3 separate regions of the Homo sapiens genome follow, and regions 1 and 3 are each linked to region 2. Evidence: fine-mapped expression QTL. A gene starts in region 2. Each other region holds a variant in brackets. All regions are shown on one strand. Distances are between the middles of the regions.

Region 1 (2,769 bases), 57 kb before region 2:
TTTGCCATCCACCATCCCTTCTAGGAGTCAGAGGTAAAGCGACTGGGATATTTCTTGTTGTTGGTACTCCCTCCCACTCTATTTTTCAATTTGTTTCACCTTTGCCAATAGAAAATGTTGGCAAAATATTCAACTCCTATATGATCCAGCAATTCTACTTCTAGATATATATCCAAAAGAACCAAAAGCGGGGTCTTGAACACAGATATTTGCACACAACTCTTACCTTGTGCGGAGGGAGTAGCAGTGACAGTGAGGTCCACAAGCTGGCACAATAAAGAACCAGGGCTGATCCCAGGTGGGCAGCAAGGCGGTACTGACTGACCCGAGGGATGTCATGGGAGTCTGATTTTTCTTCTAGTCCACTTTTCACCATATACCATCCCAACAGACCCTAGAACCCCCAAGAGATGAAGCAAACAAAACAAGGTTAAAATGATCTGTTCAACTTTCTTTTTTTTGTTGTTTTTTTGAGACAGAGTCTCACTCTGTCACCAGGCTGGAGTGCAGTGGCGGGATCTTGGCTCACTGCAATCTCCGCCTCCCAGGTTCAAGTGATTCTCCTGCCTCAGCCTCCCAAGTGGCTGGGACTACAGTTGCGCATCACCACGCCTGGCTAATTTTTGTATTTTTAGTAGAGATGGGGTTTCACCATGTTGGCCAGATGGTGTCAATCTCTTGACCTCGTGATCCGCCCACCTCAGCCTACCAAAGTGCTGGTATTACAGGCGTAAGCCACCACACCCGGCCTGATCTGTTCAACTTTACTGAGGAAATGAGCTATCAGGAGTACTCTCTACCCCACCCCTCCTCTTTCCATACCCTCCCCAATACGCAGTGTCCCAAGATTCATGATTTATCCACAGTTCTTCACATATCACCATTAATACTTAACTACTATTTAGATCAGAAGTGTCTGATCTTTTGGCTTCCCTGGGCCACACTGGAAGAATTGTCTTGGGCCATGCATAAAATACACTAACACTAACAGTAGCTGATGAGCTTTAAAAAAAAAAAAAGGTCCATGGATATATCTCATAAAACTAGATTGAATGTTTTGGAGAAACTTAATAAAGGTAAATGCTTAAAAACATCTACTGTCAAGTTAGGTTGGAATAAGACAATTATAAAAGTTTCAGGGGAAAATCATAAAAATCAATAAGGTTTTGCATGCAGATCGCTTTGCAAATATCTAAGTTCCCACTCCGCTTTAAGCAAAACCACAGTTTATGGGGATATAAGAAACCTGCAGTTGAATGCCAATCTGGGGACGCATAGTCAAAGAAAAGGCCTTGATTTTGTAAAAGTTGGTAATGAACGTACAGATTTAAGTTTAAAAGTTTATGTTATGTATCATATTCTATGATTCTCTGCTTTAACTGGCTTTTTCAATTAACCAAACAATTGTTAGTTCCAATCATATGAAATAAGACAGCCCTTTCACTCCCACTTGCCAGTAGAATCAGGTCAAAGAGGTGGACTCTGCCACTTCTAAATATATACTCTTCAGGAAATCTTTTTGGGCATTTCTCTCCCCTTTCAAGATTACCCTGGATATTC[T/G]AATTACCTTGATTTCATCTGCAAGAGACATTGAAAGATGAAGACGTACACAGTTGATTCACTAGCCCACTTTCTTCTCCCATACCTTATCTGACATCTTTAATTTCTGCCTCCCTAATAGTGTTTTCAGTGTTGGCTTGTTTTTCTAATTCTAAAATGTTAACTTTCATTTTGTTCTACATGCCTTTCTCTGGTTACTATTAGACTTTGATTATTGTTTCTGCTGCCTCTATTTCTTCTCTCTCATCTCCCTCCTTAATCCCTTCTTTCTTTATTTATTTTTTTTGAGCCAGAGTCTTGCTCTGTTGCCCAGGCTGGAGTGCAGTGGTGCAACCTCTCAGCTCGCTGCAACCTCCGCCTCCCCGGTTCAATCAATTCTTCTGCCTCAGCCTCCGAAATAGCTGGGACTACAGGCCCACGCCAGCATGCCCAGCTAATTTTGGTATTTTAGGTAGAGACAGGGTTTTACCATGTTGGCCAGGCTGGTCTGGAACTCCTGATCCCCCACCTTGGCTTCCGAAAGTGTTGGGATTACAGGTGTGAGCCACTGCACCCGGCCTTAATCCCTTCTAACTGACTCATTTTCTTACCACTTCTGAGTTAAATTAACCAATTAGCTTCCTCCTGATTAAATTTTGATGTTTCTTTGATGCCCTGATAATCTCCTTTAGGATCTCTAAACCTTGACCCAAATACTCCTATGTGTCTTCTCTTTTAATTTGTTGCTCAGTTTCACCCAACTTTTTTTTTTTCATCATTCTAGCAGTACTAACCTGTTAACTGTGGGAGTCTTTCCTTAAGAGGCGCTCAACTTACGTGATTTTAATTGCCATTTATATCTGAATATCTCTCAGCTACATGGGTATTCTACAATCCTTCATCCCACAAAGTGTTTCTCTCTTTTGGAATTTTCCTGTATGCTTCTGTGGCATTCTAGCACAGGGATCCCTCTTTCCTATAGCAGACAAGTTAGAAAAAGAGGAGAGACAAGAACCTAGGGAGACACCCATGATGGGAAACAAACTACATCTTGCAGCACATGAAAATATACTACTGAGTGCTTTACTGATTCCAGGCACTAAGCTAAGTACTTTAAATATGGATTATCTCATTTAATATTTACACGACTGTACATGGTGGCACTGTTATTATCCCCATTTACAGGTAAAGAAATCATAGCTTTCAGAGGTTAGGTAATTTACCCTAAGT
Region 2 (2,769 bases):
CTAATAGGTATGAGGTGGTATCTAACTGTGGTTTTGATTTGTGTTTTCCAGATGACTTGTGAAGTTGATTCAGTTGTCATATACCTGTTGGCCATTTATATGTCTTCTTTGGAAAAGTGTCTGTTCAAGTCCTTTGCCCACTTTTTAATTTGTTAGTGTATGTTTGCTATTGAGTTGTATGAGTTCCTTATAGTATATTGTGGATATTAACTCTTCATCAGTTATATGGTCTGCAAATATTTTCTCCCACACTGAATGCTGCCTTTTCATTTTTTTTATGTGTATACTTGACTTTTAAAATCAGTAACAAGGTCCATACAATTCACATTTGGCTGATATGCCTCTTGATTCTCTTGTAATTTGTAAGTTCCTTTGACTCCTTTCCTTCTTTTAATTTATTTATTAAAAAATGGAATCATTTGCACTATAGAATCTCCCACATTCTGGATTTTGACAATTGCATTCCAATGGAGTCCTTTAGCATGTTCCTGTGTTTCTTATAATCCGGTAGTTAGATCTAGAATTTGACCAGATTTAAGGCCAATTTTTTTTAGCTAGGATACTGCATGGGTGGTTATGTTTTAGCTAGGATACCGCATGGGTGGTTCATGATATCATGAAAAAAGCATGTTCTTAAAGCAATTTAAGTGACAGTACAAAAGGTTGGGTCAGGTGGGGCACGGTAGCTCATGCCTGCAATCCCAGCCCTTTGGGAGGCCAAGGCAGAAGGATTGTTGAAGCCTGGAGTTTGAGACCAGCCTGGGCAACATAGTGAGACCCCGTCCCTACAGAAAACATTTTTTTAATTAGCTGGGCTTGTTGGCATGTGCCTGTAGTCCCAGCTACTCAGGAAGCTGAGGCAGGAAGATCGCTTGAACCCATGAGGTCAAGGCTGCAATGAATCATGATGGCAACACTGCACTCTAGCTCAGGCAACAGACCAAGACCCTGTCTCAAAAAACAAAAAACAATAACAAAAAAAGAAAAGGTTGGGTCGATGACAGTTTCTAGCGACTGATGCCACCACTCTGTTTACAGAATCACCCCTCTCCTCTGGCCCTGATGTTTTATCATGATATCATATTTACAATGCCTGGCAAAGGCTTCATTCCCATTTGGCATACTACCTCTCAGGCAAATAGAACTTTTGAAAGCCTGTATTATGTATATAACATATAGGCTCACACTGGATAAGCTATTTTATAACCTGACTTCTTCAAAGAAAGTTTACATCATGTTTAAACCATGTTTTAGATTCTATATTTTTAATTAAAAATCTAAGGAAGAAGGATATTTCACATTTCTATAAACTCTAAGATCTTGCAGCAGAAGCGAAACTGCACATTTAGGGGTGCCTGCCCCTCTACTGATGCTGCCCTTTGTGGGTCATATGTCCTTAGGAAAATGAAAGACTGTGCACTCTTGATTTGTTGGCCAGCTCTGTTGACATCTTTCAGTGGTTCCTTTTATGTATGGCCACTCCTACAGAGGCCTCTTGTACTTTGGGAACTGGTGAGTCTCCCTGTCCCTAGGGCTTTTTAGTCACATGTCCATCCACTGTTTCAATGTAACATGCATCTAGGCAAGGTTAACGATTAAATGGTTGGGATGAAAGGTCATCCTTTACGGAGAACATCAGAATGGTAGATAATTCCTGTTCCACTTTCTTTGATGAAACAAGTAAAGAAGAAACAACACAATCATATTAATAGAAGAGTCTTCGTTCCAGACGCAGTCCAGGAATCATGCTGGAGAAGTTCTGCAACTCTACTTTTTGGGTGAGAAATTACATTTATCTTCATATTGACTCTTCTCAGACTCAGAACAAGTGGTAGTTAGTTAACTTAGGGTGGTCACCAACAAGAACCAGAAATGTTAGATGTGCAATTGGTCTAAAGCTCAGGCTTTTTAGAAAGCATAATTCATAATATCTCCAGAGGATATAAGATCTGGGAAATGTAATGCAAATTATTCTCTGTCATATGTTTTTTTATATCAGACTCTTGTACTAGCTAGTCGCAAAATTGCCTTCTCTAAAGAGAAACAGGTAAAAACCTTCCAATTTAATCCGTGTGAGGAAGGAGAATTGTTGTTGCATACTTTGCTAGTAGAAGGAAGAGAAGATCCGTGACTGAGTCTTGCTGAGACATGTTGATGTTGAAATGATAATGATAAGTTCTAGAACTGGCAACTAATGATATGGACTAGAAGTTGAGTCTAGGGATGCAACTTTGGGCATCATGAGCATTGAAATAATTTTTGAACAACTAGAGTTGGGTAATATTGTTTTTAAGGAAAAGAAGAGACACCACTTAGAGGGTGAACAAGAACAGTGTAACATTACGGAGTCATAGATAGCAAAAAATTTCAAGATAGGGGCCAATCAACAGTATCAAAGGTCTAGTGGAATAGAAAACAAAAAAGGACCTTAGATTTAGTGATTTTAGTAAGGGTTTGGTGAGAAAGTATCATCTGCAAACTCCTAGCCTCAGCATCAGAATCACCTGGGGCAATAAATGTAGTTTAAGTATCTTAAGTGATTCTTCTGAATTCTAACATTTGATAACCTTATATAGAGGTGAGAGGGGCAGGGATGAGATAGCAGAGCACCTGGGCAGCACCTCGTGTCTTAGAAAGGACCTGGGTCCCAAGACCCTCGAGGCCAGGAGTGTATACCACGGCAAGGTGGATCTTCATGGGCTATAGTATCTAGACAGGCCATCTCTTGAGAATTCTTTCTGAGAACTACCTGACAAACTTTCTTGGTCA
Region 3 (2,769 bases), 26 kb before region 2:
TGATTAATCAATGGAATATTGTGACTACTACATAAGTATTGTAGTTGTTTTTGTAGTTGAAAAACATTTCTAAAATGGTTCTTGTCCTGTCTTAAATAAACAGGCTCTTTGAACATAGGTGAACCTTGCCTTGTAAAGGCATTGCTGAACTTAGACCAGTTAATAGTAAACAAATTCTGCAGTTGAGCTTCAAATGAGTCAGATATGCACATGTGCCCATTCGCCTATGATTTCCTGTAGCAAAGTTAATAACTATGGTGTAAGGATGGAAGAGTCAGTCATTTTTCTCCCTCCTACCTTTAGTACTTAGTCTTCCCTCACATTTGTTCTCTGTTTTCAGTTATTTTGAAATTATATTACCATTAAGAAATTGTGAGTATTATATGGGGTTTTTTAAATACTTAAGAAGACTCTTACAATTTAATAGTAGTTGAATATTTCTGTTTATAAATTGGGAAAAACACAATGTAAAAGAAGCAAGATGGCTGGCTGGGTGAGGTGGCTCACACCTGTAATCCCAGCGCTTTGGGAGGCCAAGGCAGGTGGATCACTTGAGGTCAGGAGTTCGAGACCAGTCTGGCCAACATGGTGACACCCCATCTCTACTAAAAGTACAAAAAAATTAGCTGGGCGTGGTGATACATGCCTGTAATTTAAAAAGGAAAAAAAAAAAAAAAAGGAAGCAAGAGCCTTAGAACTTACAATTCCAGATATAAAATCAAGTATACTGTCCAGTGGATTCAGCTGCTGGATGTTTCAAGTAATTAATTGATGAAAATTATGGAATATACTAGTCCAGCATACTTGACCTACCCTTGTATCATGAAATAGTCTATAAAATGAAGCGGCAGTAGGAGGGCCCATTTAATAACATAATTATCTGTTCCTTTATTATTTCTGTTACAGAAATTCATCTGTTGCCATGGGAGCCTCACTTTCTTGCTCAGAATATTCCCTAAAGGTAACAGATGTGACCAAAGTAAGGACTTTGAATGCTATCGCAAAGAACATCCTGGTGTAGCCAGACCTCTCTGAGAGACATGGATATCACAGGATGAAGGTAGAACTATAATCTGCAATTCTCTATGACACAGCTTTAACCTTCTTCTCTGGCCAGGACAGTCGCAATCTTTGTTTTAAGTTTCACATGGCCATGGAGAATGTGCCCAAGAAGAAAAAGAATTTGAAACAGAGATACAGTCACTTCCTTTGCTTAGTCTTACCAGTGATTGTCATCATGGTTAAAGCTGGTCTGTGCTTCTTCCATAGACAGAAGCTTAGTCTGTTTTCAGTGGAATTAATTGATGAACTGGGAAAATTTTAACTGCATGGTATGAATTCAGAGTGTGACTTAAGGGTCAATTCAAAGCAGTATTTTGACTTTTCATTTGTAAAATAAAAATTTCCACTATTACAGTATAGTCTCTTATTCTT[G/T]CACTAAATACAGCCTGTAGCCTACAAGTATGAAAGGAAAAGTGTTGTCTTATTTGGTTCCACACTTTCTCTTTTTATTATGTGCTGATTGGATATGCTGCTTTGGGCAAGATGCTAAGGGTACAGAGTAAAATGGTGCAGTGTGAAAATTCCCAGACTTGGAAACAGAATATCAAAGTTCCTAGACTTACGAAGACAGATGTGAACTCTGGCATTCAACAGGTTACTTATCCTGCAAGTGGAAAGAAATGGCTTAACTCTAAGATCCATCTGACAATTTTCAAAGACCTATAGTAAAAACTAGAGGGGGGTTAGGAAAGTTATCAAAGCAGCAGTTTCTTTCTACTGAAGTCACAGATGGGAAAGATGGATTCTAGTAATGAAATATTTTTCCTATGACCAGGTCCCAATGGTAAAGTTCATCACTACCTGTGTCTGTCACTTTCATATTTATAATCTCATTTTACACAAACAACACACTGATAATAGAACTGTTGTTCCTATCTTAGGAGAGTAACTGAAGCATAAAGAGCTTCCCCTTGGCCAGGAAGCCTCTGAATAACATGCACAGATTGTGTACTAATGAATGTTTATATGAAGAGTCTTGCCTTTATTTATTATTTATTTATTTTTGAGACAGAGTCTCACTCTGTCATCCAGGTTGGAGTGCAGTGGCACAATCTTGGCTCACTGCAACCTCCACCTCCCGGGTTCAAGTGATTCTCCTGCCTCAACCTCCTGAGTAGCTGGGATTACAGGTGTGTGCCACCATGCCCTACTAATTTTTTATATTTTTAGTAGAGATGGGGTTTCGCCATGTTGGCCAGGCTGATCTGGAACTCCTGGCCTCATGATCTACCTGGCTCAGCCTCCCAAAGCGCTGGGATTACAGGCTTGAACCACCACACCCAGCCTAGATTTTAGGGACTTTGATCTTTCAGGATTTCAACATTCAGGATTATAGCATTCAGGATTGTGTCTTTGGGGATTATGATCCAAACCCCTCTTTATGTATAAAGCAAGATATACATACAGTCCATAACAAATATACAGTGTATTTATGGTATTAAAATTTCAGGAGAGAGGAGTGTTTAGGGAAAAGGAGTGACCAAAAAATCTCCTTAGACATGATAGTCAAGAAACACTGAACTAGGATAAGGTACTGACAAGGGAGAAAGTCATGGTTAAAGGCATAGTCATAGTTAAAGCGAAAGCAGTAAAAATGTGATATAAAATGGATTTAATGTGAACTTATTTTGCTTAAAATGTGTCCTATTAAGGAATACATCATATGAACATTATCCAGAAGTACAAAAATAATGCAGATGTTTTAAG

Evidence for each region.
Region 1: its variant is fine-mapped to the expression of ABCC2 in whole blood (TOPMed, PIP above 0.99).
Region 3: its variant is fine-mapped to the expression of ABCC2 in whole blood (TOPMed, PIP above 0.99).

What each region holds. Positions count from the first base shown.
Region 1 is chr10:99,723,730-99,726,498 of GRCh38, forward strand. COX15 (cytochrome c oxidase assembly factor COX15) reads right to left here. Exons shown (of 9, transcript NM_078470.6): 5 at 227-394. Among named protein-coding and RNA genes, the nearest start is that of COX15, 7.0 kb to the right of the region's middle. The variant T/G (reference allele first, on the strand shown) is at 1,561.
Region 2 is chr10:99,781,100-99,783,868 of GRCh38, forward strand. It overlaps ABCC2 (ATP binding cassette subfamily C member 2), which reads left to right and starts at 1,541. Exons shown (of 32, transcript NM_000392.5): 1 at 1,541-1,778. The coding sequence starts at 1,746. RefSeq lists an enhancer at 2,739-2,769.
Region 3 is chr10:99,754,719-99,757,487 of GRCh38, forward strand. It overlaps CUTC (cutC copper transporter), which reads left to right. Exons shown (of 9, transcript NM_015960.3): 9 at 907-1,416. The coding sequence ends at 1,021. Among named protein-coding and RNA genes, the nearest start is that of CUTC, 24 kb to the left of the region's middle. The variant G/T (reference allele first, on the strand shown) is at 1,435.